4 linked regions of the Homo sapiens genome follow. The protein of the gene in region 1 interacts with the protein of each later gene in a pairwise test. Each region holds a gene or a part of one and is shown in the gene's direction. Other genes may lie near its edges.

The links.
Region 2: the proteins of MID1 (region 1) and ZNF618 interact in binary tests that used the Homo sapiens proteins (3 or more experiments, as listed by UniProt).
Region 3: the proteins of MID1 (region 1) and N4BP1 interact in binary tests that used the Homo sapiens proteins (3 or more experiments, as listed by UniProt).
Region 4: the proteins of MID1 (region 1) and DYRK4 interact in binary tests that used the Homo sapiens proteins (3 or more experiments, as listed by UniProt).

Annotation. Positions count from the first base shown.
Region 1 is NC_000023.11:10,445,026-10,449,585, reverse strand, and holds the end of MID1 (E3 ubiquitin-protein ligase Midline-1), read left to right. Parts: coding exon 1-218; 3' UTR 219-4,030; downstream 4,031-4,560. UniProt on the Homo sapiens protein: Has E3 ubiquitin ligase activity towards IGBP1, promoting its monoubiquitination, which results in deprotection of the catalytic subunit of protein phosphatase PP2A, and its subsequent degradation by polyubiquitination.
Region 2 is NC_000009.12:113,871,303-113,879,320, forward strand, and holds the start of ZNF618 (zinc finger protein 618), read left to right. Parts: upstream 1-5,006; 5' UTR 5,007-5,078; coding exon 5,079-5,111; intron 5,112-8,018. UniProt on the Homo sapiens protein: Regulates UHRF2 function as a specific 5-hydroxymethylcytosine (5hmC) reader by regulating its chromatin localization.
Region 3 is NC_000016.10:48,607,157-48,614,123, reverse strand, and holds the start of N4BP1 (NEDD4-binding protein 1), read left to right. Parts: upstream 1-3,943; 5' UTR 3,944-4,151; coding exon 4,152-4,349; intron 4,350-6,967. UniProt on the Homo sapiens protein: Potent suppressor of cytokine production that acts as a regulator of innate immune signaling and inflammation.
Region 4 is NC_000012.12:4,557,583-4,565,217, forward strand, and holds the start of DYRK4 (dual specificity tyrosine-phosphorylation-regulated kinase 4), read left to right. Parts: upstream 1-4,625; 5' UTR 4,626-4,663; coding exon 4,664-4,701; intron 4,702-7,635. Other genes in the region: RAD51AP1 (RAD51-associated protein 1), read left to right, coding at 1,275-1,411. UniProt on the Homo sapiens protein: Possible non-essential role in spermiogenesis.

The DNA of each region.
Region 1 (4,560 bases):
AGCCTGCCCCCCACCTCCGGCGCGTGGGCATCCTGCTGGACTATGATAACGGCTCTATCGCCTTTTATGATGCTTTGAACTCCATCCACCTCTACACCTTCGACGTCGCATTTGCGCAGCCTGTTTGCCCCACCTTCACCGTGTGGAACAAGTGTCTGACGATTATCACTGGGCTCCCTATCCCAGACCATTTGGACTGCACAGAGCAGCTGCCGTGAGCGTCTGGCCACATGGAGCTGCTTTCTGGGGAACAGTAAGGTTCAGGCCACTATTTAGGGGACTGAGAAAGCACAGGCTTCATGAGTGTAATGAAATCTCACCAGAAGTGTCCCGAAATCGGCTCAGATAGGGCTCAAAACAAGAGATTCCTCTCCTTTTACTGTGTCTTGTATTAAGTACGGGCTTTAATAATTTCTTTAATTTTTTTGTATTTAGAGGAAAATCTATAGATTATTTATAAGAGAAACATAATCAGGATTACAACTTTTAGGAATTACTTGGTTTTGCACATTAAGAGGCCCATAAGTTTATCAGCTATTTACAACCTTCATTTCATCACAATCTGTGGGCTTACAAAAAAACAAAAACTTTTGTAGTTTTGTATGTTACTCATCTTCTTACCTGATATCCCATGATGATCCCATGGTAGGTCTTCTCACCTCGATGGTGCATAACAGGATGTGTTTGAACCTAGTAGGGGAGGAAACAGGCTTTCTTACTCTGGTTTAATTTGAAGTGTTTTAATTGTGATGTCAAAAAGTTGTATCAGATCAACTAAAATGGAGAGCAAGACAGAGAATGAAAAGAGTTGATTTTGGACCTCGGACCTTGCCGTGGCTAAATCTTTACCTTCTCATAGCTGATGGGATAATGTTGGAAAGAAAGGTTCTGAATCCTTTGGCCACATTTTGCCCTGCTTCTCTCAGGGTTAAGGGTTCTGGAAGAACATTAAGAATGAGATTGCAATTGAAAATAGTCATTTTGAATCCTATTGATTATTCAAAAATTCAGGCTGATTTGTCTTTTATCAGAGGTAGGATTCTGTTTTATAGTATAGAATCTACTTTATCCTTCCTTTTAATAGTTCCTTTAGACCTGTGAAATTTCTTCACTACATTTAATAGTTCTCCTATTTCCCGCTCCCCCATATCAATTTTCCTTTTGTCTCCGGGGCTGAGTAAATAAACATGTTCTGTCACAAATAGCAGCACCACTTTGGATTGATTTTGCTCTCCAGGACATCAGCACATGGCCCTGATCAGCACTACCACATCCAAACATAAGTCACTGAAAAACACTTAATATTTATGAGTTGGTAATGACAAGGGACATTGTATAAAGTACTATTTGCTAGATTCATGCCTCAAAAGTTATTATAAACAGACCTTTATTAAACACATCTTGAAAGATGTAGAAGTCCCTCTATAGTCTAGTATAGTTTACAATAGAGTTGTAAGACCAAAAAAAAAAAAAAAAAATTCAAACTCGTTATTCAGGAACCTGCTTATAAAATGTCAGCTGGGATTCTTTGCATGCCAATCTGATGCGTTGGAATGGTCCATGAATTAAGGCTTTCTTGAGCAGTTCTTGGCCCAGAACTCTGGCATTGGTTCTAGTTTGATGAAGGGCATGACCTCTATAAATGGTTTCAATTGCTAAAATATTTACCTGGGATACTGGGTCAGCCATTTTGACTGAGCAGACTAGTGGATTTAGACATTGTTTTTAGTTATTTTGTTTTTAACCAAATCAACCAACTGCCTCCCTGAAATAAGTCAATGAACTCATTGTTTCAGCATCACGTGGCCAAAGGTCATGTGATTGCAAATCTGGATTTCAAGGGAGGCCAAGCCAGCTTCCTGGGTCCTTCCATCCTCTTCCCTAGCAGACACTCTCCTTTTTCTTAACAGATAGATTCTATATATTTACTATATTATTTATACCCAGATGAATATTTTGATAGATACCTAAGACAATTTCACATCTAAAAGATGGACGCCTCAATGGAAAAAAAACAATCTTTCTCTGGAAACCTTATAGGTTTTTCTTTTTATTACAATATAAAAGCAATGTGTGTTTGCCTTCTCTGAGTAAACTGAAAGGGTTGTCTCAGTAATTTTTACATACATTTTGGGTAACTGGATAATGGATATTTTAATGCACTTTGTACACTAACAGGTTCTAAATAAAAGGGTCTAAAACTCAGCTTCTGAGTTTTTAAAATCACGGTCTCCAGGTACCAATAAATGCTACAGTTTGCCTTATGATGTTAACATAAAACACTTAGTAGAAGGACAATATTTCCATGAAAATAATGTTTTTCAATATTAAGAAGTTACTACTCAAATTTTCACAGTAAGCCATTTAGGGTATGTTTGGCTATTTTTATAAGGACATGAGAGATTATGTCATAATTTTGTTGTGGAAGTCTCACTCTTGGCTAACTTAAAAGCATTGTGGATAGTAGCAGTTACTAGTTCCAGGTTGTCATATTTACAGGAAAATATGTATATGGTGAAAGGCCACCGTGTTTAATTACTATAATGATGTAGAAAAGATTCCCGTGTGAATTTTTTTTTTGAAAGTCTAAAAAATGTATGCTGTAAAAATTTGCTGCAGTGTAATTTTGCATTCTCTTTAAACTGATTGAGGTCACAGTATTTTATTATTTGGGGTCCTCACCACAGGAAACACTGCGATACAGGGGCAAAAGAGATGGCAGTGCCAATTAAATTAATACAACAAAATCAATGCAGCACCAACCAAGACTGCCAGGTCTGGTGTCATGGGTATGCCCAGAGCCCAGGAGTTCAGAAGGGCCCTAAGCCTGATTTAATGCTCTGCTGTTGATGTCTTGAAATTCTTAACAATTTTTGAACAAGGGGCCTGCGTTTTCACTTCGCACTGGGCCTTGCAAATTACATAGCGAGTGCTCATAAAAGAACTCAGAAACGTGGTACCTCTCTTCCTGGTGGATACAAATAAAGAAATCTGGATCCAAAGTTGAAAGTTGCTGGCGATATCATTCAAGTAGGACTCTAAATAGTGGATTAAGATGAGGGTGGGCCTGGGTGAAGATTCTTTCCAGCTTTAAAAGAAAGTGACTTCAAAAACTGACTGCAAATATTGACGATGGTTTCTGCTGGAGGAAAAGAAACAGCTTGAATACAGACAGGCTTTTTTATTACGGTACTGATATATTGACCTTAAACTTGCTGAGGAACTGAACTAACGTCCTCCAGTGACCGTGGAATTCCATCTCAGCTCCAGGAACATGCAGATACCTGCAAAGAGACACGCATATATGCTGGCATACATGTGCATTTGGTGTTGGGAAGTTGACCATCTGGTCTATCTTAATAAAATGGTAAAAAGCACACCAAGACAATGATGGGGGCAGGAGGATGTTTTTGAAAACAGCGCTTCTCAACCAGTGCTCGATTTTGCCCCCCAGGAGACATTTGGCAATGCAATGGCAACTTTTGGTTGTCGCAGCCGGGGAAGGGAAGCTACCAGCATCTAGTGCGTAGAGGTCATGGACGCCGTTAAACATCCTACAGTGCAAGCGCAGCCCCCGACCACGAAGAGTTGTCTTGCTCAAATATCAACAGTGCTGCAGTGTAGAAACTTGATCGTTGGTTTTCTTTTAATGCAAAACTCTCATAAAAACCTTTCACTTTTCCTGTCATTGATTATATGCTTGATACACCCAAAAAGAAAAGGGGAGGGGCACCAATTCACCTACACTCCAGTGGCTCCATCACCTTTAAAAATATTTATAAAATAGTTCCAAAAATCTGATATCTGAAAAGCAATCCAAGCCTGTGTAAATGGGAATCACTGATAAGTATCATCATCTGTATCAGCTTGGCTTGGACATGAAAAATTGATTCTCTTTATGTCACTCCTTGCACCTGGACAAATTCAATCCCCGGTACTTAAGTCACACTGCCAAGCCCTCGGCCCTGACTATTGTCTTGATTGCTGTTCCTTTCTGGTTCAAAATAAAATCATTTTTGTGGCACCAAGACCCTCTGTCTCTGCCTGTCTCTGTTGCCTTTTCATCATTTTGTGTTTTTGCAGTTATGATGTTGACAAATATTTATTCAACATCTACCATTTATTCATACTACTTTATGACATATAATTCATTTTCTTTTACTGTCTCTCATCCACTATTTGCCTTTCCCTATTCAAAATACAATTCTTTTGCAACACTCAAAATATTCTCCAGGGAATTTTTAAAACACAATAAAAGAAAGCCTATATAGAAGTGGAAACCCAGAACAAGGTTTGCTTGATTTCAAGTCTTATAGATGGGGTGAGGAAGAGAAGAGCAATGATTATTTGAACAGAGCACTGGGAGTCTTTACAGTGTGATCTAGGAGAATCCTAGCAGTTGGTCCATACATATATCCTCAACCCCATCCCATGGACCTGACTTTCTCTCACTAGAGATGCAAGCCTTTGGTCTTGGTCAGTGCTATGCAAAGTGTGGTCCAGGAATCTGCAGCATCTGCATCACCTGCGAGCTTGTTAGAACTGTCAGTTCTCCTGCCT
Region 2 (8,018 bases), on another chromosome or scaffold:
CCCAGAGTGATGGAGAGAGAAAGCCCAGGTCCTGAAACTTTTCTAGTTCCTGGCTCTGAATCCCCTTGAGGCTTTGTTTCATTTCCTGCCCTTGGATACCATGATCCACCTTCTAATTTTCCATTTTTTGTCTGTTTAGCGTGATTTCTTTTCTATTGGTTACAACTGAAAGCGTATTGATAAGACTGGTAGGTTTTAGAATCCCCATTTTTCAAAGACAGACACTAAAGCTCAGAGATGAAGCCCTGAGGCCAGGATCACCCGGGTAGTGAGGGCACCGGAAATTCCACCTGCCGACGTGTGCGCTTTCTCTACACGAGACACTTTCTTTTTTTTTTTTGAGACAGAGTCTCGCTCTGTCGCCCAGGCTGGAGTGTAGTGGCGCGATCTCGGCTCACTGCAAGCTCCGCCTCCCGGGTTCACGCCATTCTCCTGCCTCATCCTCCCAAGTAGCTGGGACTACAGGCACCCGGCTAATTTTTTTATATTTTTAGTAGAGACGGGGTTTCACCGTGTTAGCCAGGATGGTCTTGATCTCCTGACCTCGCTACACAATACACTTTCTAAGGACTTCACACATTACATCATTTAATCCTCAGGGCACCCCATGAGGTAGATAAAACTGTTAGCATCATTTTATTTATTTTACTTTATTTTATTTCTTTTTATTTTATTTTATTTTATTTTATTTTATTTTATTTTTTGAGATGGAGTCTCGCTCTGTCGCCCAGGCTGGAGCACAGTGGCTTGATCTTGGCTCACTGCAACCTCCGCCTCCCGGGTTCAAGCGATTCTCTTGCCTCAGCCTCCTGAGTAGCTGGGACTACAGGCGTGTGCCACCACACCTGGCTAATTTTTGTATTTTTAGTAGAAATGGGGTTTCACCGTGTTAGCCAGGATGGTATCAATCTCCGGACCTTGTGATCCACCCGCCCTGGCCTCCCAAAGTGCTGGGGTTACAGGCGTGAGCCACCGAGCCTGGCCTATCATTTTAAAGATGAAGAAGTGGGGGCAAGAAGTTGAGCCATCTGCTGGAGACCACACCGCAGGGGAAGAGGACCAGAGCCAGTGAACCTGGGAACTGACGCCAGAGGCTGGGCTCATAAAATGATGTAGTAATGCTAGTCCTGGAGGCAGTGGGCTAGGCATGGAAGGAGTAAAAAGTTTCCAGAATTTGATAAACTCAGGCACGCCGAGTTGAACCACAGACCCTCAGAAGATGGGAGAGCCTGTGGGTGTCCCTCCCGGACCACGCTTCCACCGATGTGAGCATCTGTTCTTCCACACCCCTGACCAACAGTCATTTTTCCAACGCTGTATCACAGAGCCTGCTCCATCATAGAGCAGGTCTGGTCTTGTCCCCTGGGCGATCACAAAATATGTTGGCTCCTCCACCCACACACCCTCCCCCTTGAAGCTCTGCCCAGAGCTCGCCTGGTGTTTGTAGGGGTCCTCCCCTTCTCTTGGCTTCCCCACACTGGTCACAGTGTCATTGCTCTCGAAAGTGAGGGGGCTAAGATATGACCACAGTGCACCTGATGGGACCATAGCCACCTCATACAGTACCTAGCCACTTTCTTGGGCAGGTCCTCAGGACACTCCAAAAGTTCCACAAGGTGAGTATGCCCTCAGTTAATTCCTGAATGGAGACAAACCACAGCTCTGAGTGATTGCATAGTTTCTGCTGTGGTTTGGGAAATATGTGGGTTCATTTATAAGCTGGATTTTGTCAGGAAGACTTCAAGCTCAGCCATTGTCCCCTGAGGATACCCTTCATGGCCCATCTGATACAGAATGAAGAAAGGAAGCACTCTTCAAGGCCGAGACCCCTGGGGAGGAGATGCCTCTATGGTCGAGATGTGCTGATAGAAGGCCCAGCTCCTGGGACCCATGGGTGGCGAAGAAACGGAAAGGGCTTGCAGTGATTCTAGAAAAAGAAGGCTGAGAAGGACCATGAGCTTTTATAGGCCAGAGGTGCCTGAAGACAGGCTGTGGATTATTTCAGGTTGGTGGTCACTGATGCTCTTGAGTGAAAGCCACAGATTTTCTCCCCCAAAATGCACATACAGACATACATTTGGTTAAGGAGTAGTTCTTGGTTCCCCAAACCAATGCAAAGTCCCCATTTAAGAATCCCTGCTCTAGAGAGAAACTTCCATCTAATTAAGACCCTCCTGGAATCTTCGCTGACCCACGCCCGGGCTGGGTAGGACCCTTCCTTGAGCTGCACTGAGCACCTCACTGTTGGCACTGTACTGCAAAGGTTTGAAGAAGGTGGCCCTTAAACCAGCAACATCAGCATCACCTGGAAACGCATTAGAAATGCAAACTCTTGGTGCCTAACCTAGACCAAATGAATTCAAAACTCTGGGGTGGGCTCAGCAATCTGAATAGGCTCTCCTGCTGATTCCAAGGATCACTTGCATTTGAGAAGAGCTGCTGCAAATAGTTCTCCTCTTCATGGTGTGTGTCTGTCCTACTAGATACAAGGCACCTGGCACATAGTAAGTGCTCAAATGAATAATTATCGTATCAAGTTTTCCCGACTCCCAGGGCAGGAGTTTTTCCTTGGTACCATACAGCTTTCAGCTGTGGTGACTGAGACCCCATGTCATTTTGGATCTAGTTTCTACTCTAAGGCCTAAGATCAGGCTTGGCTCTACTAGGCAGAGGCGGGGACCCGGCCTTGAGGCAGGTGCCCAGAAACCTTCACACAAGGATCGAGCCAGACAGACATCAAATCTGGGAGCATCTTTCCAGGTAACAAGGCCCCAACCACCTGGTGGATGAGGGGCAGGTGGACTAGGGGCTGCCTGCCCAGCACATATGCTCAGGGCTCACAGGACCCAACTCTGCCATGCTCTGCAAGCTGCCCCTACTCACCTTGGTGCCTGCTGCACACCAGCCTGGGCAGAGGCTGCCAAACCTCTGGCAGGGACATACTTACCAGGTTGGTGGGGAGAAAAATGGCCACTTTCAATTTCAATTTTTAAGGAATCTCCAACTTTTAGGGGTCTGGGAGGAAGTGGTTAGAAGACTCCTCTTTTTTTTTTTTTTTTGAGACGGAGTCCCACTCTGTCACCCAGGCTGGAGTGCAATGGCGTGGTCTCGGCTCACTGCAACCTCCGCCTCCCGGGTTCAAGCAATTCTCCTGCCTCAGCCTCCTGAGTACCTGGGACTACTGGCTGGTGTGTGCCACCACACCTGGCTAATTTTTGTATATTTAGTGGAGAAGGGGTTCACTATGTTGGCCAGGCTGGTCTCCAATTCCTGACCTCGTGATCTACCCGCCTTGGCCTCCCAAAAGGATTATTTGCGTGAGCCACCACTCCCGGCCAGAAGACTCCTTTTAACGTCTTGTGTTATGAGTGTTTGTTAAGGGGGGCAAGAGTTGTGTTTCTTAATTTCATGTCTCCCATATAGGGCTAAACTCCCAATTTAACTTATTAGGGAAAGGAGGTGTCTTCTACACAGTGCCTCCGTTTCCTAAAATTTTAAAAATAACTTTTTTGAGGATTGTAGGGAAAACATTTCTGTAACCTTTCCTGTCTCATATTGCTCCAGTTCTTTAAACATTACAAAAAAGAACATTTGATTTTTGAAGGTGGGGGCAGAGAGAAGATACCTGGTTACTCTTAATTTCCAATGCTTTTATTTTTGAAAAGTACCCTTGCAGTTTTCTTTTGGGGAGGGGCAAAGAAGGATTTCTGTTCACCTTGCATCTCATAGAAGAGCAATTCTTAACATTTTTATTCCAAAAATCAACCAGTTGTGGGAGATGTAGGATGGATCCAGTAATCCCTCCTTGTCTCTATAATAGGGCAGGTCCTTCATACTTTCAATTTTTAAAAAATCGGATTTTTTAGGAGAATAGGGAAGAGAATAGAAAAAAAAATCCCTTTTAAACTTTCCCAAGTCACAAGGAGGCAGTTGCTCAAGTTAAAAAAAAAAAAACAACAATAACAACAACAAAAAAACTGGCTATTTTGGGGTGTTGGAAAGAAATATCCTGGTTCACGTTTTATTTCACATGCAAGTTTCTCAAATTTTCCTTCTCTAAATCAACCTAACTGGGGGATATGGGGGTGGGGGGCGCTAATATCCCTTAACCTTTAACCCCTCTTGTCTTACTGTAGGACCAGTTTTTCAAACTTTTATTTAGAAATACATATATATATTTTAATTTGGCAAGGATAGGCAGAAACAGCCGCTTCACTGGCATTTCACATAAAAGCGGCTCCTCAAGTATTTATTTTAAAAATCAGTCTGGCTGGGGGGCTAGAGTCCCCTTAACCACTCTTGTCGGACATGGGGCCAGTCCTTCAAACTTTTATTTTATTACATTAGTTTTTTTGGGAGGAGTGGCAGGGCAATAGAATATTCCCAATAAGCCTTCCAGTCTTCCAGCAAGCCAGCTCTTGAAAACTTTTATTTCAAAAATCAATCTGGTTTTTTTTTGGCGGGGGGGTACAGCGGGGTACAGAGTTCCCATTAACCTCTTGCGTTCCGCCGAGAGCCGGCTCCCTGAACTTTTTTTCCAGCGTGAAAATGACATTTCCGAGGGGCTGGGGGACTGGGGGAGGGCAGAAGGGAGCCGGGGAGCGGGCGCGGGGGGCGCGGGGAGGGCAGGGCGCGGCGCGGGAAAGTTTGGGGGGGCGGGTGTGCCGCGGCACTGGGGCTGGCGGACGGGAGGGCGGGCGCGCCCCTGGACCGGCCGGCTTTGTGTGCCACGCGGAGGCCGGCAGCGCGGAGGCCGAGGCCGAGGCCCCGAGCTCGCGGGCCGCACGGCGAGGCCGGCCCGGGGGCGGGCAGGGCGGCGGGGGGCGGCGGCGGCCCCGCGAGGGGCGGCTCGGCGGCAGCGGCTGCCGCGGCGCGGCCGGTGCGGGCCGGGGGTGGGGGCGAGGGCCGGCGCCCCCCCCGCGCGCCCCCAGCGCCCCCGCCCCCCCGGCCTGAGCGGGGCGGGCGGAGGAGGGAGCGGCGGCGGCGGCGGCGGCGGCGGCGGCGGCATTGTGCGCGCACCAGCAGCCCGGCCCGGGAGGAGCAGGACGCGCCGGGGCCGCCTCCTCCCGCACGGACCCATGAACCAGCCGGGCGGCGCGGCGGCTCCGCAGGTACGACGGGGGGCCGGGGGCATGCACCGCGCGGGGGACCCCGGGGGGCCGGGGCCCGGGGCGCTGCGCCACTTCATTGCAAGATTTGCAAAATGCAAAGTGCCTGGGCACGTTTGCGGGCTTTTTGTGGGCGCAATCGGGAGGGTCGGGGTCCGGAGAGCACCCCCCCGGGCGCTGCGGGGTGCGAGGAGGGTGGGGGTGACGAGGGGGTCTTTTGGGGCCCCCACCCAGCGCCCCCTCCGGCCCCGGGCTCGGACCGGAGCCCAGAAAACAAAGCGGCGAGAGAACAGAGCAGCCATTTCAGTTTGGACAATTCACATTTTGCAAAAATGCAACCCCTTCCAGCTCTGCCCCCTCCCCCCCAAATTTGCAATTTTCCCCTGACCCTCTCTGCGCTCGGGGTCCCCGATGACCCCCCGGGAGGTCTTTCCCCCCAGGTCCCCCATTTTTGCAACAATCTTTTTTTTTAGGCCATATTTTCCTTTCTCAATTTTTTTTTTCTAATTTTTCTTCAAACGGTAGTTTTTTCCCATTAAAACGACGCCACCTAGAGGATACTATTTTGTAAATAAAAAAGAAATTAAAATTGAAAAGAAATATTTTTTATTTCTTATTTTTTCAAAAGTTTGCACTACCAGGCAGTGGAGGGGTAAGAGATTCTTTTTTTTTCTTTTTTCGGGTGAAAATTTTCACTTTGATCTTTCCAGAAGCATGGAGACAATTTTTATTTCTGAAGCCAAATCCAGATAATATGTAAATGAAAATTAAGCTGGAATTTGAATGAATTTAGTTCTTGGAGGGGAGAAAGCAAAAAACCTCCTAAAAGCAAAGTCAGTTTGGGTACCCAACTCATTTTAGTTTGAGAAAAAAACTAATTGGAATAAAGAAAGGAGGGAAATTGTTGAGTTTAGGGAAAACTGAGAGAATTGGCTTTATGAAGCAATTAGAAATTGTACTTCATTGTAATTTGGAACTTGTTTAGCTCAGCGGGCAAAAAAAGACTAATTTCTCTATATGGCAATATTTAAAGTTTTTCTATTTCCACGAACGAAGGATTTAAAAGAGAAAATAGAACCTAAAATGTTGGCTTTGGACACACCCAAAAATTGTAGTTTTTTTTTTTTAATTTTGCATTTACATTTTACTGCATTTAAATCCTAAGATTCTAAAGAAAACAGAAACTAGAAAAGTTACAGTGAAATCCTTTCTTTCTTTTTTTCTGTATTTGTTGGGTTTTGTGTGTGTGTGTGTTTTTTTTGTTTTGATGGAATAATTAAGACTGTTTTCTGATTTTGTTTCCTGAAAGGTCTAGGCATTTCTTTTTTGTTGTTGTTTTATCCAGAAAATGTCAGGAACCTTTTTTGAGCAATATTAAGTGGAAAAAATGTAAATTCATACATTATACAAATTGAGTAGCCCACAGATTTGTAGGAGAGACCGCCATTAAAATAAGATATGCATAATTAACATTATTATGAAAAAACTAACAGTGGATTCACAGAAGCTCATTTTTTATGACATGCAACTGAATCAATTGATGAAGACAAGGATTGAGGAATCCTTGGTAAGGAAGAAAATTTTCCCTTTTCTGTCTTGTTCACCCTTCCAATTTGAAAAATTTATTACTTAAAAAAAATTTAGATTGGTTTCAGGCCTCTTTGATTGTGATGTGGGGTTGGTAGTTTATCAATATTTGTTATTTTTCAAAAACCTGATTACTTTCAAAGGGGGAAAAATCCATTAGCCTTGATCATTTTGGGGGGTTTGTGACCAAAAAAAAAAAATGCACAAATTTTACTGACTTAACAAGAAAAAGATAAAAGAGGGATGGGCAAAAAGGAGATGAAAATTCTGATTCTTATCCATCTTCCTTGGTAGAACACTTACTTTGCTGAAGAAATGTGATATAACACCAACTCAGCTGGTTTTAGCAGCAACAAAATAAAGGAAAAATAATCAAAATACAAACAAAAGCCAAACCCAAGGTTTGCCTTTGGAATATGAAAGCATATATGCAAACAATATTTCATGTGGAGGTTTTGGCCTTAAAATGAATCACATGAAGGTGAAACAAAAAAGAAAAAAAAATTTAAGAAGGCAAATAAATATTGACCGAATTGAAATTTGACAGATGAGAATAAAGTACCCACCCAAAGATGAAGCGTTTTGTGATAAATTAGTATCTAATTGAACTTGCTGGGGATTTTGAGCCTATCCCCCAAAAGTTACAATTTTTCTGTCCAAAAACAGCATATTGTTAGGACTTGCAGGGCGGGATCTTGGAGGGACCTTGGATTGGAAATTGATGGTGGGTCACCTGGGGCAAGAAAGGAAACCCTTTGCTCCTTTTGCCAGCCACTAGCTGGTCTTGGGAAAACTGGTGGCCCCAGTCCATAGATTCCCAACCCTGTTTTGTGGAAATTTGGATGTTTAAGTGGAATAAGTCAAATATATTATCTCTGTGAAATATATTTGACAATGGCAGAGGTTTGACATTTCCCATCATCGCCATTGCATTTGGGAGATTTTATTTTTTTAGTAACGAAATCCTTCAGGGCTGACTGGTCACATTCTGACATATTTGGAATGAGCTTTTTTTTTTTTAAGTAGCATAATTAAAAAAATTTTTTTCTGTTGAATTATTTAGGCCGATGAGTAGGACGGTCAAGGAATTTATAATTTCCAAGGGGCTTTGGAGGCCTCATGAGGCAGAAGGCCTGAGTTTAGCAGTGATGAAGGAGAGATGGGCTGGGGAGGGGTGGAGGGGGGTAGGGGCATCTGAGAAAAAGTCAGGGTTGTAGATAACAGGTTATTTCTGGTGCAAGGAATAAAAATATTGCAGCACGTCCCTTTGTGTGGCCTGGATCTCCTGACACACAATTCAGCTTCCTTCATTCCATTCTGCTG
Region 3 (6,967 bases), on another chromosome or scaffold:
GCGACAGAGCGAGACTCCGTCTCAAAAAAAAAAAAAATTAGCTGGATGTGGTGGTGCATGCCTGTAATCTCAGCTGCTCGGGAGGCTGAGATAGGAGAATTGCTTGAACCCGGGAGGCAGAGGTTGCAGTGAGCTGAGATGGCACCACTGCACTCCAGCCTGGGAGACAGAGCAAGACTCCATCGCAAAAAAAAAAAAAAAAAAAAAAATCCAGCCCCTGAGGCTTCTAAGGAAATACATGACCAGATAAGTGAGCATGGTATGTGCTTGACGAGTGTTTGGGTAAATAAATGAGCATATGGCATGGGAGAATGGAATGGGGAAGGATAGGGAGTGGAGGTTCACAGTCCATTCCAAGGCTGTATGTCAAGATGACAGGAAACACATATGCAGCTTGTCTCAAAGTTGTATCTTGAGACTGGGGAGAAAGAAGGAAAGAAAACAAGGTTTTAAAATGCAGTTTGAAGCCAAGCTGCCTGCTTACAGTCAGACTGCCTGGATTCAAATGGCTATTTCTACCACTTCACTGACTAGCTCTGTGGAACATTCCAGAATTTCTCTATTCTTCTGTTTCCTCTTTTTTCCCCCTTAATTTACATTTTTTGTGGGGGGGCAGGTAAGAGACAGGATATCGCTATGTTGCCCAGGCACACCTTGAACTCCTGGGCTTAAACAATCCTCCCACCCCAGGCTTCCAAGTAGCTGAGACTACAGGCACCTGCCACCACCCCCGGCTGGTTTCCTCATCTTTGAAACAGGAAGAAAAACAATAGCAACCACTGTTGGAGTTTTAGGAGACCAATAAACACTCTTTCTGCCCCTTCTGAGTTCAGAACTAAGGAAGAAAAGCAGGTAGAGATCAAAATGTCATCATCATTGCTGACAAGAGCTAGACTGGAGGATGTGGTTGAAGTGAAAATACTTTACCCCCAGTCACTAACACAGCAACTGCAGACAGCCCATTACCAGGGTACAGGGCGGTCCAACCCAGCACCCCACCTTCTCAGAAAGTTATCAGTCAGAGAAATCCTCCTCCTGCTCTGGGGAAAAGGAGAATGAAAGCTAGATAGACATGTTCCTCCACACTTGGCCCCGCTGGGGAATGGAATAGGAATCTCCTCCTGTCCTTGAAAATATGAGAAGCAAAAATAAGTGATTCTCTCAATACCATTTTATGGGCTCTTGAGGTTGTTATGAGATTAAGGAAAAACACAGCTAAAGTATCTAGAATACAGAATTCATAAGGTTTCATCTCTGGCATCGACTGTCCTGGCTGGTCAGGCCAGCCAGATAGGCAAGGCTGGTTAACCGAGGGAAGTTGTGGTTGAGTGAGAAACAGCATGAAGCAAGGAAGTTCTTGAAAGGGGATTTTTTTTTTCTCTCTCTCTTTCTCCTTGTTCCTTACACTCAGGAAACCTTGAGAGTTCCCTAAAGGGAAATGCTGATCAAATATGAACTGGCAAGTCTTTTTTTTTTTTTTTTTTCTGAGATGGAATCTTGCTCTTGTTACCCAGGCTGGAGTGCAGTGGCGCGATCTTGGCTCACTGCAACCTCCGCCTCCGGGGTCCAAGCAATTCTCCTGCCTCAGCCTCCCGAGTAGCTAGGATTACAGGCATGTGCCACCACACCCAGCTAATTTTTTATATTTTGAATAGAGACGGGGTTTCACTACGTTGGCCAGGCTGGTCTCCAACTCCTGGGCTCAAGTGATCCGCCCTCCTTGGCCTCCCAAAGTGCTGGGATTACGGGTGTGAGCCACCACACCCAGCCTGGCAAGTCTTAAATTAAAACTGGAGGAAAAACCTCCCAAAACTATGTATCTTCAATTATACACCAACCCAGTGACTTATTAGCACAGCTTCTTGGCCCAGCATTTTTTAAGGGTGTGTGTATGCACTGCTTCTGTTGGTTTTGGGTGGGATTTTTTTGGAGGGAAGTGGGGAGAGGAAGGCACTGTGGTGTGTTTTTCAAGGCAGCCTCCCTCTTCACCTCTTACAATTAAGCAATTAAGAATCGCAAGCAGGGAAGTCACTGGGAGCAAACAGGAACCAGCCCTGGGGAAAGCCCTGTCTAATCACTGAACAATAGCAATTCCGTTTAAGGTGAGTGCAATAAGGCAGGAAATAACATGCTGTGTTGACAACATGCCTTACTGATAGACTGCGGTTCTGCAAGCAATGCATCAGCAATGCCACACTCGCCACCTGACCTGCCTCAGCCAATCCCACGTCATCTACCTGATGGAGCAAGGCTGCTGGTTGTGTGGACATCAAGGGAAAAGCCCAGGGGAGCAGGAATCTGTTGATCTGTGAGCCTAGTGGTTCTCTTCCCTGTGCTGAATCACTTCTTGGTGGGGCACTGGGAGACCACACCTGAGTTTCTGAGACATATGGAAACCCCCAGAAGCCTGGATCTCTCATAGGTTTTACCTTGGGTAAATCCTCCTACAGAGACCATTCCCCCTTGGTATTTCCAACTACAGCATCTTTAGCTCCTCCTCTTTTTCCTCTAGCAGGGATGTACACAGATGGCACAGACTCCTGGGCCCACAAGTTCACTGTGGTTGCATAATCCACACAAAGATTTTCCCTGAAAATTAGGCCTTAAATATATTGCTTAAGTTAGCAATAATAATGTTCAGTGAGCACTTACAGTGTTGGGTGCTGTATTAATATTCACAATAGGAAGTACTATTATTATCTACATTTTATAGATGAAAAATTAAAACAGAGAGAGGTAATATTCCCAGAGCCCCTATCTACTATAGCCACAATATTTAGCTGAAGGAAAGGAATCCAACACTTTATCTTCCACAATCTGTTTTCATGGACTCAGAGAATATAAAGGCCTGGAAAAGGCCTTAGAGATAACTGAGTGTACTCTTTTATTTTACAGATCAGAAAACAGACCTGGAGAGGGGTTAGGGTTTATTTGCTCCAGTCCCAGGGAAGATCATGAGTGAGCCCCCAAACTCCCACTTTTCGGGCTTCTCCCATAACATATCCCCTTTCTTCCCTCACAGAAGAAATCACTCTCCTGAATTTATCTTTTTTTTTTTTTTTGAGACGGAGTTTCGCTCTTCTTGCCCAGGCTGGAGTGCAATGGCGCAATCTCGGCTCACCGCACGCAACCTCTGCCTCCAGGGTTCAAGCGATTCTCCTGCCTCAGCCTCCCTAGTAGCTGGGATTACAGGCATGTGCCACCACGCCGCGCTAATTTTTTTTTTTTTTTTTTTTTTTTTTTTTTTTTTTTTTTTTTTTTTTAGCAGAGACGGGGGTTTCTCCATTTTGGTCAGGCTGGTCTCGAACTCCGGACCTCGAGTGATCCACCCGCCTCTGCCCCCACAGACTGCTGGGATTACAGGCGTGAGCCACCGCGCCCGGCCTTCTTGAATTTATCTTAATCATTTTTTTGATTTTCAATTCTCCGTAAGTATGCCCATTTTCTTCTCTTCTTGCTACCATTTTTACTGAAAGAAATAAAAAGGGAAAGAGAAAAAAGTGAGAAGGGCAGCTAAGAAGGTAAAAGGGTAGGGAGGAAGGGAAGAAACAGAGAAAGAAAAGTCCCGTCTGCCTGTGGATTAACGTGAAACTGAATAACTCAACTGCTAGAATCCTGGTTTGAGCGTCAAGATGTCTGAGGTCAAGTCCAATCCCTGTGACACTCTCAGTCTCGCCTCCTGGCAATTAAGTTTCCCCAACTATAAACCCATATATCTACATCCACCAGATCCCGCGAAAGCGGTTTCCCCTCATCAAAGAAGTCCGCCCAGGCCTCCAAAACCATCCCTTTATTCTCAACCAACATGGCGACTGAGGGTGACGTCAACTTCCGTCGCCTTCACCCTACTCCCTTCCCCTAGGGGGCGGCGAGCCTCAATGACGGCTGCGGCCGGGGCGCATGCGCGGCGGCGGGGCCCGGCCCGCGGCGGCGGCAAAGGGGCGGAGGGGTTCGCTGCCAGCAATTGCCAAGCTGCTGCGGTCGTGGCGGGATGGTATAGCCGGGCCTGAGGGCGGGCGGCGGGGCGCGGGCGGGGGCGAGGCGGCCGGGAAGGGCCGACGCCGCCTGACTGGCTTGGGAGCAGCGGCAGCAAGCTGAGGGGGCGTCGCCGCCGCCGGCCCCCGGCGCCGCCGCGGGAGGCCGCGCCCGCCATGGCGGCCCGGGCGGTGCTGGACGAGTTCACTGCGCCAGCTGAGAAGGCGGAGCTGCTGGAGCAGAGCCGCGGCCGTATCGAGGGCCTGTTTGGCGTGAGCCTAGCCGTGCTCGGCGCGCTAGGGGCTGAGGAGCCGCTGCCCGCGCGCATCTGGCTGCAGCTCTGCGGGGCGCAGGAGGCGGTGCACAGCGCCAAGGTGAGTCCGGCCGCCGCCCCCGCGCGCCCGCGGCCTCGATCGGTCCGGGTCTCCGGGCTCCCGCTCCTCCCCGCCCCCGCCGTCCGCCGCGATGCGCCTGGGTTGGGAACGCAGTCTCGGGAGCCAGCGAACGTGCCTTTTCGGCTCGCGAGCCATGTGACCTTGGATAGCGGCTTGATCCCCGGAGCCTCAGTTTCCCCATTTGTAAAGTGGCGCTGACGAAAGTACCTACCTCAGAGGGCTGTCGCGAGGATGAAAGTGGGGGATGTGTATGAAGCGCAGGCACAGCGTGTGGCACGGATCGGGTGCGCTGCGCATGTCGCCTGTTGTTGTCAGTTCCCCGGCCCCCAGGATGGTACGCAAGGCCTGTTGCTGGGCCCGCAGCCTCGTCCACCACCTAAGCCTTTATCCCCCAGTCCCGGGCCTCCACTACTGCAGTTCTGAGCCTTTTTGGGATCTCAGTTCCTCTTGAGAATCGGAAAAAAACTATTAATAGTAATAAAACGCTCGGAGAATGTCAGAAAGAAAGGATTTATGTTTACCTATTTTTTTCTATTTGAGACAGGGTCTCACTCTGTCACCCACAGTGGAGTGCAGTGTGGCGCGGTCTCAGTTCACTGCAGCCTCGACTTCCCGGGCTCAAGTGATCCTCCCACCTCAGCCTCCCGAGTAGCTAGTACTATAGGAGCGCGCCACCACGCCCGGCTCATTTTTTTTTTTTTTTTTGGTAGGGGATTTCACTATGTTGCCCGGGCAGGTCTCGAACTCTTGGACTCAAGTCATCCTCCCATCTCGGTCACCCAAAGTGCTGGGACTACACGCGGGAGCCACCCCGGCCGGATATTTAATATGTTAACAAAAAATAGCGTTATTCTTTGTATTGATATTACCTACAACTAACATTTACATAACGCTTAAGAACATCACAGGTTGCTTCAGAAGGAATGTGCAGCCCTTATGGCTTCTAATAAGGTAGATTTTATCCTCCCCACCACCACCCCGCCTTTTTTTTTTTTTTTAATTAACAGCTGGGGAAACTGAAACTCAAAGTGGTGACTCACCTTCTGCCTAAATCAGCATTTCAGACCTCTTCAGCACCTCTATCTACTTCCCCCCCTTTCCAAACCAAAAAGCAACACAGTATGTTGCTCCTCCTAGGTAACCAAGTTTCTCTAGGTTTTTCCATCTCCTAAGTAGGGCAGCAGGATTCAGACCTAGGGAGTTTGTTTCCAGAGCCTTCGTTCTTGATACTTGCCTCTCATATGATGAGCCCTGTCTGCGGGGTGGGCAGGAAGGGCCCTCTTTTTGCATCCTGCTTTGTCAAGTAATGTCAGTGTCCTTGAATCTGAGTAGTCGTATCTCCTGATGTTCTTAGATTTAACAAAAAATCGTGAGTGTTTGCATTTCACATCCTTAAAGGAGACGGGGCACTCAGCTGTGTAGTTCTTCAAAGCTTAACTTAAAACATTGTAGGCCGGGCGCGGTGGCTCACGCCTGTAATCCTAGCACTTTGGGAGGCCGAGGTGGAAGGATCACGAGATCAGGAGATTGAGACTGTCCTGTGTCACACGGTGAAAACCGTGTTCTTGAGAATCGGAAAAAAACCATTAATAGTAATAAAACGCTCGGAGAATGTCAGAAAGAAAGGATGTATGTTTATTTACCTATTTTTTTCTGTTTGAGACAGGGTCTCACTCTGTCACCCACACTGGAGTGCAGTGGCATCTCTACTAAAAATACAAAAAATTAGCCCGGCGTGGTGGTACGCGCCTGTAGGCCCAGCTACTCGGGAGGCTGAGGCAGGATAATCGCTTGAACCCGGAAGGCAGGTTGCAGTGAGCTGAGATCGCGCCACTGCACTCCAGCCTGGGCGACAGCACGAGACTCCGTCTCAACAAAACAAAACAAAACAAATCAGAAAGCCAGCATTGTAGATATAGAACCAAGTTTGCTTTCCTGGGCTTAACTTTTTTAGTCAGTTGGATTGCAGACAGCTGGTCTAAGGCGCATTCCCCTTCGTCCATTCTCCCCAGCTATCCAATCTTCTGCACTTCTCAGGGCTTAAAAGCTTGACATGATTAAGTCCTGCTTTTTCTTCTGAAAATCTCTTACGTGCATTCATTCCTTTCCTTTCTATTGCCTTTGCTGCGGTTAAGACTTTCATTCCTGTGTGTCCCCTCCCTTGCTCCATTGCCTTTACTCATTCATTGCTCCCTCCCTCCCTGGTTCAACTTGTGTTAGAGTAATCCTCCTGCAAAAAGTCATTCTCCTGCCCTGGAACCTACTAGAGCCTCCTGTCACCTGTCTCATTCAGCCTAAACTCCTCCTCTGACTTACAAAACGATTAATCCAACCCCACTTTATTTTTCCAATGTTCTGGTTTAGCACCTTTCAGCTTAAATCTCCACTGTAGTAGTCTCTGCCTTTGCTGTGCGTTCTGCCTCCTCTGGGTTCTGCTTTTGCTCAAGACTCATCGCAAGCATGGAGAATGACTCCTTTGCTATGCAGAAGAGCCCTGCTGGTCCTGCCAGACCTGCCCAATGCCTGTTTTCTTGGCTGTCCTTGCCACACAGTTTAGCCAAGCTGTTTGGGAAAGGTGTGTCTTACAGTTTCTTGCT
Region 4 (7,635 bases), on another chromosome or scaffold:
ATAATTAATGCTTCCCCAATGAAGGAAATTTAAATGGAGTGATATAACTATAGAAATTTAAAAGTAGCATAATTAAAAAAATACAAGGAAACAGTGGAATGATGGATAAAGAGTTAATGTCATCAAGCACAAAGTGCTTATCAAGTCAGCATGTGACAGTCAGGCAAGTGATGTAAACGAGTGAATTGGGCCCATGCAGTAGACTTGCGTGGGTAGGAATTTTGTTGGACTCAGGAGCGCGTACCCTTTTGAAGGAAGCAGCTGCTACTCAGCTCCATCGTATTGTTTCCATGCAAGATTATGGGCTTGGTATTTCTAGATCTGATTGCTGTTTTCAAGAGAAGCCAGAAATCCAGATTTTAATATGAAATCTGCTAATTTTTGTAAGTTGATTTTTTTTGTTGTTGTTGTTAGCACCATGTGAACCAAAACAATATATCTGAGAGCTAGATTTGGCCCTCAGATTGCCAGTTTGTTACCTATCTTATACAACTGGAGAAGACCACCAAGACCCCAAAAGTAAAATTAGCCAGAGGCATAAATATAACAGTGTCCCCAAGAACTATTAATACAACAAGAAAATATGAAGAGTTTCAGTCTCACTGGTAATTAAGGAAGTGTAAATTAAAATAAAATACTATTTTATACCTTTCAAACTAGAAAACAATAAAGCAGTATAGTCTGAGTTATAGGGTAGCAGGTATAATTATTTATTTTAAATTTATAATACTGTTGTGTAGGCGAGCAACTACAGTCACCATCAACTGTGAACATTCATGTGGATAATTTTGAAATAGATGGAAATAATTGCGACATTAGGATAATAGTATAATGAAACTAGTATAAATAAATAACAATATTTGCCATTTTTAAAGGTATTTAATAATTGAAAAATAGACTCTTCAAGGACTACTTGTAAAAATTGCAGGACCTTAAAAATGCATTTGCTTTTTCTATTACTTTAGAAATTATAATTATATGCATTTTTGTATGCCTTTACAACTAGCATTATTTGTTCCCAGCCTTCCTTTTTCAGCTTTCATGGTGAGGTTTTAGTGTCATTACCTTGGCTTCTGGGATGTTTGGAAATAGGCAATACTGTATTAATTTCTGCTCTTTAGAACATTCTGTTCTTTTGATCTAGTTTATTGCTTGATAGACACTGGAAAGCAGAATAATGCTTAACTACCTTTTTTTTGCTGCTTATTTTATAAATTAATCTTTGTTAAGAGATTTCTGACATCATCAGCATCACATCATATGTTTCCTTTCAGCGGCATCTGGAGGTAGCAGAAGTAGCAGCAGCCCACTGGTGGTAGTGTCTGTGAAGTCTCCCAATCAGAGTCTCCGCCTTGGCTTGTCCAGATTAGCACGAGTTAAACCTTTGCATCCAAATGCCACTAGCACCTGAGTGTGGTACAGGAGGAATGTTTGGTTGGGAGAATCACAGCTTTACAAGGGTGTTTATATTTGATTTGTGTTTATATTTGAGGCAGGTATTGTAATATAAAGGAATCCATTACCATGTCCTATAAATGACCTCTAGCCATTTTATGATTATGTTCTCTGTAAAACTCTTCAAGACTTCAATGAGAAGTTTGTTTATAAGAATTATCTTCTCATACCTTTCCTTGTGAAGAGCGTATTCTGTTTTTCTATCAGTTCGACATGAAGTCCACATCACATGCTGTTCTTTTCTAGTTACATGATGTGCCTTTCTAGCTTTGTCTAGTTTATAGCACCTTAACTTTAACTGTTCAGTTTTATCTGGCAGAGGAAAACATTCTTATTTCTTTCAGAAGACATTTCTGAAATCTTATAAGCTACTTAAGCTACGTTGTCAGTTTTATCGCAAAGATGTTTTGTATTTTAGCCAAATCTTTTTATAGTACAAACTTAGAATTATTTTACACACTAAAATGGTTGCAGTTTTATGGCATATGTCTCCGATTTAGATGGTTATTCTCTAGAAAATAGTATTTAAAGACATTTTATGAAATCTTCATTGTCAAAACCTTTAATAAAAGTGGAAATATTTTGAAATGCCCTTTTTCTTGATACCACTCATCCACGTGTTCCTGATTGTCCACATTTCATGATAAAATGAGAGCTCCGCAGAGAATGTTAGCCTTTCTGTTGTAAATGTAATCTTCAAGTAGTCACTTTTTGTTAAGTTCTTTAGAAAGTAGTTGTCAAGTACTTAGTCATCCCTATTATGATATGAGATAGTACAGCTTTTCAGGAAGCTTAGATCTGAATTTACTTTGAAAAACAATTGTAATGAATATTTTATATTTACATTGAGAATTTCAACTAGCTTCTGATCAATTTTTAATAAAAAATTTTCAAATCATGTTAGCTGTTAAAAAATGTATAATAACTCAGTTTTTCTTGGTTTATGGAAATATCTATATTAATGTGAAAATAATTAATTTAGAATTGTGATTAAAGTGAGCATTTGTCTATTGCTGTTGTACACTTCTTTTATCTAACGTATATTTTTATAGTGTCATATACCAGCCCCCTAACCTGCCCCACCTGTCCCCTTTTTAAAAACATATTTTCCAGTTACATAGCACTGAGGTACTCTATTTGGTGTAGATCAACAATAAACATAAGAGCCTACTGTATATTAGGTACTGATATAATTGATTAATCATCTGGCACCAGCTCAATAACCTGTTTTTGCCGTGTTCTTTATAGTTTATCAGGGGATTTGAAAATTACCTCAAAGTATGTTAAAACCAGCCTGGCTGAAAGCACTGATACCTTTATGTTGCCAAACCCAGTGTACAATTTTCTCACCTAATCTTATACACCCTATTCATTATACTCTGATGAAAACATTTGATTTCCTTGGCTCATGTGACACATTTCTTTGTCATTTCTTCCCATCTCCATGCCTACTCTTCATTATTTTGCAGCTTTCTAATCTGTTGTGTCACCTTTACCTACTTGTCTTACCAGTTTCATGTTCTATGCAAACTCCAGGGGTCACTTATGTGACAGTGACTGCCAAGTCAGGGTCTGTACCCTATACCATGCTCTTGACAACAGAACCTGTGGATGGTCCACTGACAATTTGATGTAGCAGATCAGTTGTTAAATTCAACGTCTCCTCCTACCCCTGACATCTCTCCTGTGTTTTCTGTTGGTAAATGAATGGCACCACCATCACTGCAGGTGCCAAAGGTGTCATCCTGGGATTGAGTCTTCTCTCGACTTTCACATCCAGTCACCAAGTCTTACTCCATTTCCTAAATTTCTCAAAACTACTCTTCCATGTGCTCTCCCTTACTCTGAAACATCATCACTCACTATTTCTAACAGGCATCCTTGCCTTGATTCTTAACCTACTCGGGCCTACTTCCATTGTTATTGCCACAGAGGGTTTTATAAAATAAAGTCAGCATGAACACCCCTCTGCAGTCTGCACATACACACCTTACCCTGGTCGAGTTCATAGCCTACTTGGTGTCTGACTCCCCCTTTCCTGCTGCTTCAACCTTGTCTCTGCCCACGTGCAACTTTGATCCCTGCCCCACTAAACTGGGTGCTGGCACAATGGTACCAAGCTTTTCTATGGCTCTGGCCTTCAGAATAGGACTTGCCTCCTTTACGTAGACAACTACTGCCTGTCCTTGAAGACTCAGATTCAACTCAGCTCTTTCAGAAAGCTTCATTTGAATGTCTTTTCTGCCTGGACCAGACTGTGCACCTCCAGGTCAACCTACTGCCACTCAATTACAAATTTCCCTTTTCATGCTTTCTACAATCTGGTGCAGAGTAAGCACTCAAAAAGTGTTCAGCTGATATATGGATTTTACCCAGAACTTTTGCTATGTACTTACTTTTTTTCTTTTTCTTTTTCTTTTTTTCTTTTTTTTTTTTTTTTTTGAGATGCAGTCTCGTTCTGTCGCCAGGCTGGAGTGCAGTGGCGCGATCTCGGCTCACTGCAACCTCCGCCTCCCGGGTTCCAGCGATTCTCCTGCCTCAGCCTCCCAAGTAGCTGGGACTACAGGCACGCACCACCACGCCCCGCTTATTTTTGTATTTTTAGTAGAGACGGGGTTTCACCATGTTGGCCAGGATGGTCTTGATCTCTTGGCCTCGTGATCCACCCGCCTTGGCCTCTCAAAGTGCTGGGATTACAGAAAAAAATGTCTAAATAGAGACAGGGGCGGGGGGGTCTCACTACTTTGAGCAGTTTGGTCTCGAACTCCAGACCTCAAGTGGTCTGCCTAGGCCTCCCAAAGTGCTGGGATTGCAGGTGTAAAACCACCGCGCCCGGCCAGAACTTCTGTGATGTAATTCTGATAACCACATGCTTCGCTTGAAGAAGGGGAGAGAGTAGGGATAATTTCATGTGTCCGGTCTGGGCAACCAACTTTAAGTTCTTTATGCTGGGATTTTGTTCAATTCTTGCCCTATACTTTAAAGAACTGGGGCAAGAGAATGCGAGTAGGAGGACGAGGAGTATGTTCTTCAGGCTGCTACTCTGCAAGGTGGTTTGGGACCACAGCCTGAGAAAGCCCTTCCAGCTCTGGAGTCATAAAAAGGGCGGGAGCCGTTTCTATAGCGACGGGAGGAGGGCGTGGCCGTCCCTTGCCCTCTGCCGGGCTCTCACAGCCTCCCGCAGCGGCGGGCGGTCAGCGCCGGCCTCATGCAGCTCCTCCCGCCGCCTATCCGCACCGGAACAAAGTAAGGGCCGCGGAGGCTCGTACTTCACGAGCAGTCAGGCGCGAGTACGAGGCAGGCGACGAAGCTTCTGGTCGACGGGGTCGTGGGGGGAGAATGAAAAGCGTGCAGAATGCAAGAGCTGACCGGGGAATGTGGGTCAGAGAGAGGCGGGCTGTGGTGCGCGGACAAGAAAATACAGTTGTAGTTTTTGCAGCAGCTGCATCCCCGGAATCCGACGTCAGTATACTTCCATGTTAAGATGCTGTCGCATCGGCGACTCCAGCTGAGTGCAGGACAGGGAGCGAGGGGTTCTGAGGAACTCAGCAGACCTATCCTGGAACTGTGCTTCCAGCCCTCACTGGGACGCCAGACTTTCTTCCTCCCTTTCTTTCTCTTCTTTACTGCATGTCCTCTTGGTAGTCGTAAGTGGGTCCACGACCACACGCCTCGCGTGGATGAGGCTCTGGCAGGCATTACTCATGTTCCCACCCAGCCCATATGCCCGGGCACCTCTGTGCTCAACCAGGGCCCAGCCCCTGACACAAAAGCGCGCGAAGGTGTGTGTAGATCACACACCCAGAGCTGCCACTCAGGAAATTCCCAATATTAGCAAATCTTTCCTTAAAAAAGAGATGAACAATGCACAATTTGAGGGTTTTTAAAGGCTATTCTGTGACATTTGCTGCATTTGAAATGTCCAGCAGCCCCTCAAAGCTTAGGAAAACCGTGACCCCTCTGACATGTCTTAAGCAACGGACAGCATCACCAATATTAATTCAAGCTTCACTGTCCAGGCTTAAGTGGAGACTCGGCAAAAGCAGGAGGCCATTTAGTGGAAAAGTTCAAACCGTGGAAACAACAAATGAAAATGTCCTTTGTCTTGCTTGAGCGATTTGATCACCTACATGTGGTCGGTATGTAAAACCTAGGAGTTCGAAGAAATTCTTCAAACATGCACTCTACCTTATTGTTTCTGTTACTTAAATCTGTTGTTTCTCTTGTTTGTTTTGGTCCTTATGGAGAAAGCAGAGGTAAATCGGAAGGGACTCTCTAGCAATATGCCAGCCACTCTTCCCTGACTTTGCCCTCTCCAACTCCACATATTGTTGCCTGCAACTTGGCTAGAATGCATAGTCCTCAAGCGTGTGGAGGACCCAGTGCTGGGATTTAGTGGTTTTAGCTGACTCTAAGCCCATCGTGAGTGTGTTGTGATGGCTCCCCAAAGAGCAAATGCTGGTGGAGGCTGCATTCATAGAAATGCAATGACCACATCAAAGAATATGGTCGTGCTGCCTGACTTAGCAATGAGTAGAACATAATCCAGACTCTAGAAACTGTAGCTACTTTGAGATCACAAAGAACTGGAAAATAGGAACAACCACAAGGCAGGCTCTCTCTGTCAGGCCTGGGTGTGCCATCACATGAAGAGAGGTTTGAAAAAACTTCACAGAATGCCTGGAGATGAGGAGATGCAAGGGAGAGAAAGCTTTTTTCTACTCAACTTTTGAACATTCAAGAACTCTTGAGTAGAAAAGAGATAGATTTGTTCCTTGGTACTCTGCAGAGGATAGCAAGGATCAGTGGAGGAAATTTTGCTCAATATAGTTTATTCTTCCAAGAAATATCAAGTACCAACCCTATGTAAATTAACAGTTGAGTGTGAAATGGGTTGCCTAGAAAAACAGTGCACTCTGTCATAGAAATATTCCAGCATAGACAGAGTGATTGCCAGGAATACCATAGAAAGAGGATTCTTCCCCAGGGTGGGAAAATGGATGACATGGTCTCCAAAACCTCTTCTAGCTCTTTAGAGTCTGGGAGTCAGTGAACCCTCAAGAGTCTCAGGGATATATGCAGAGGGTCCAAGGAATTCTCTGGCAGAAATGAGTGTGACTTAAAATACATTTAGATAGAAGAAATAAGACCTAGTGTTTAATAAATCAGTAGAATGACAATAGTAAACAATAATCTATTGTATATTTCAAAATAGCTAGTAGAGAATAATTTGAAGCCCTGACTTGATTATATATTATATAAATATAAATATACATCTATTATATATCAATTAAAAAATGAATGTAACTTAAGTTCATTAAAAACATTATCACCTGTTCACAGAATGCAAACGGAATCCCTGCAAACCCTGCACTGCCATACTTTCTGCCCCAAAGACAGCCCCCAGGGCATAAAGATCAAGCTACTGGCAATTGCAGTAGAAATCCTAAAATCATAACAGGTAAATCTCAAAAGACTTGTTTCCTTTCTGGATATTGAAGTACTCTATACACAGATGATGTGTATATATTAATATAAAATACTATGCAGTGCAGTAAGGCTGGCACCTCTGTGGATCTGCCTTAACCTTGAGTCTTCGAACTCCTTGAAAACAAGGCTTCTGTTTTATTTATCTTTGAATCCTCCATGCTTAGCCCAGTAGCTGGCACACAGTTGATGCTCTGGAATTTTTTGATGAATTAATCTATTTTAGATTTCTCTTCCCTCAGCAAATTTGTACCAAGTTTTCAACAGACAAGTCACTGTCCTTACCCCAAAAGGAATTTTTTAAAAATGCAGGATCACCATCTATGTCTCCAAAAGACTAACAATCAATATGAGACAAAAAATATATGCACCTAAGATAATTAAATGACACTAAAGCTCTTGACCAAGTGAAAAAATGGTTTCTTAGGCAAACACACGATTGAACGCTCGAGGAAAGAGAGGAAGGGGAAGGAGAACTCCGATCTGCATGTAAGATGAAATGAGAATGGCCAAACTTTTGGTTTCAGTTCTCAAAGGAACATTCACTCTAGCTCTGAGCTGAGTTTATTAGTTATCTTCAATCCTTCATGTAACAAGATACAAACGAAATATAAAAAGCAGTTTAATTCTTTTCCACATAGCTCACCACATATTTTGAGGATAAAAAGGTAGCATTTGCAAAGCTTTGAGCAA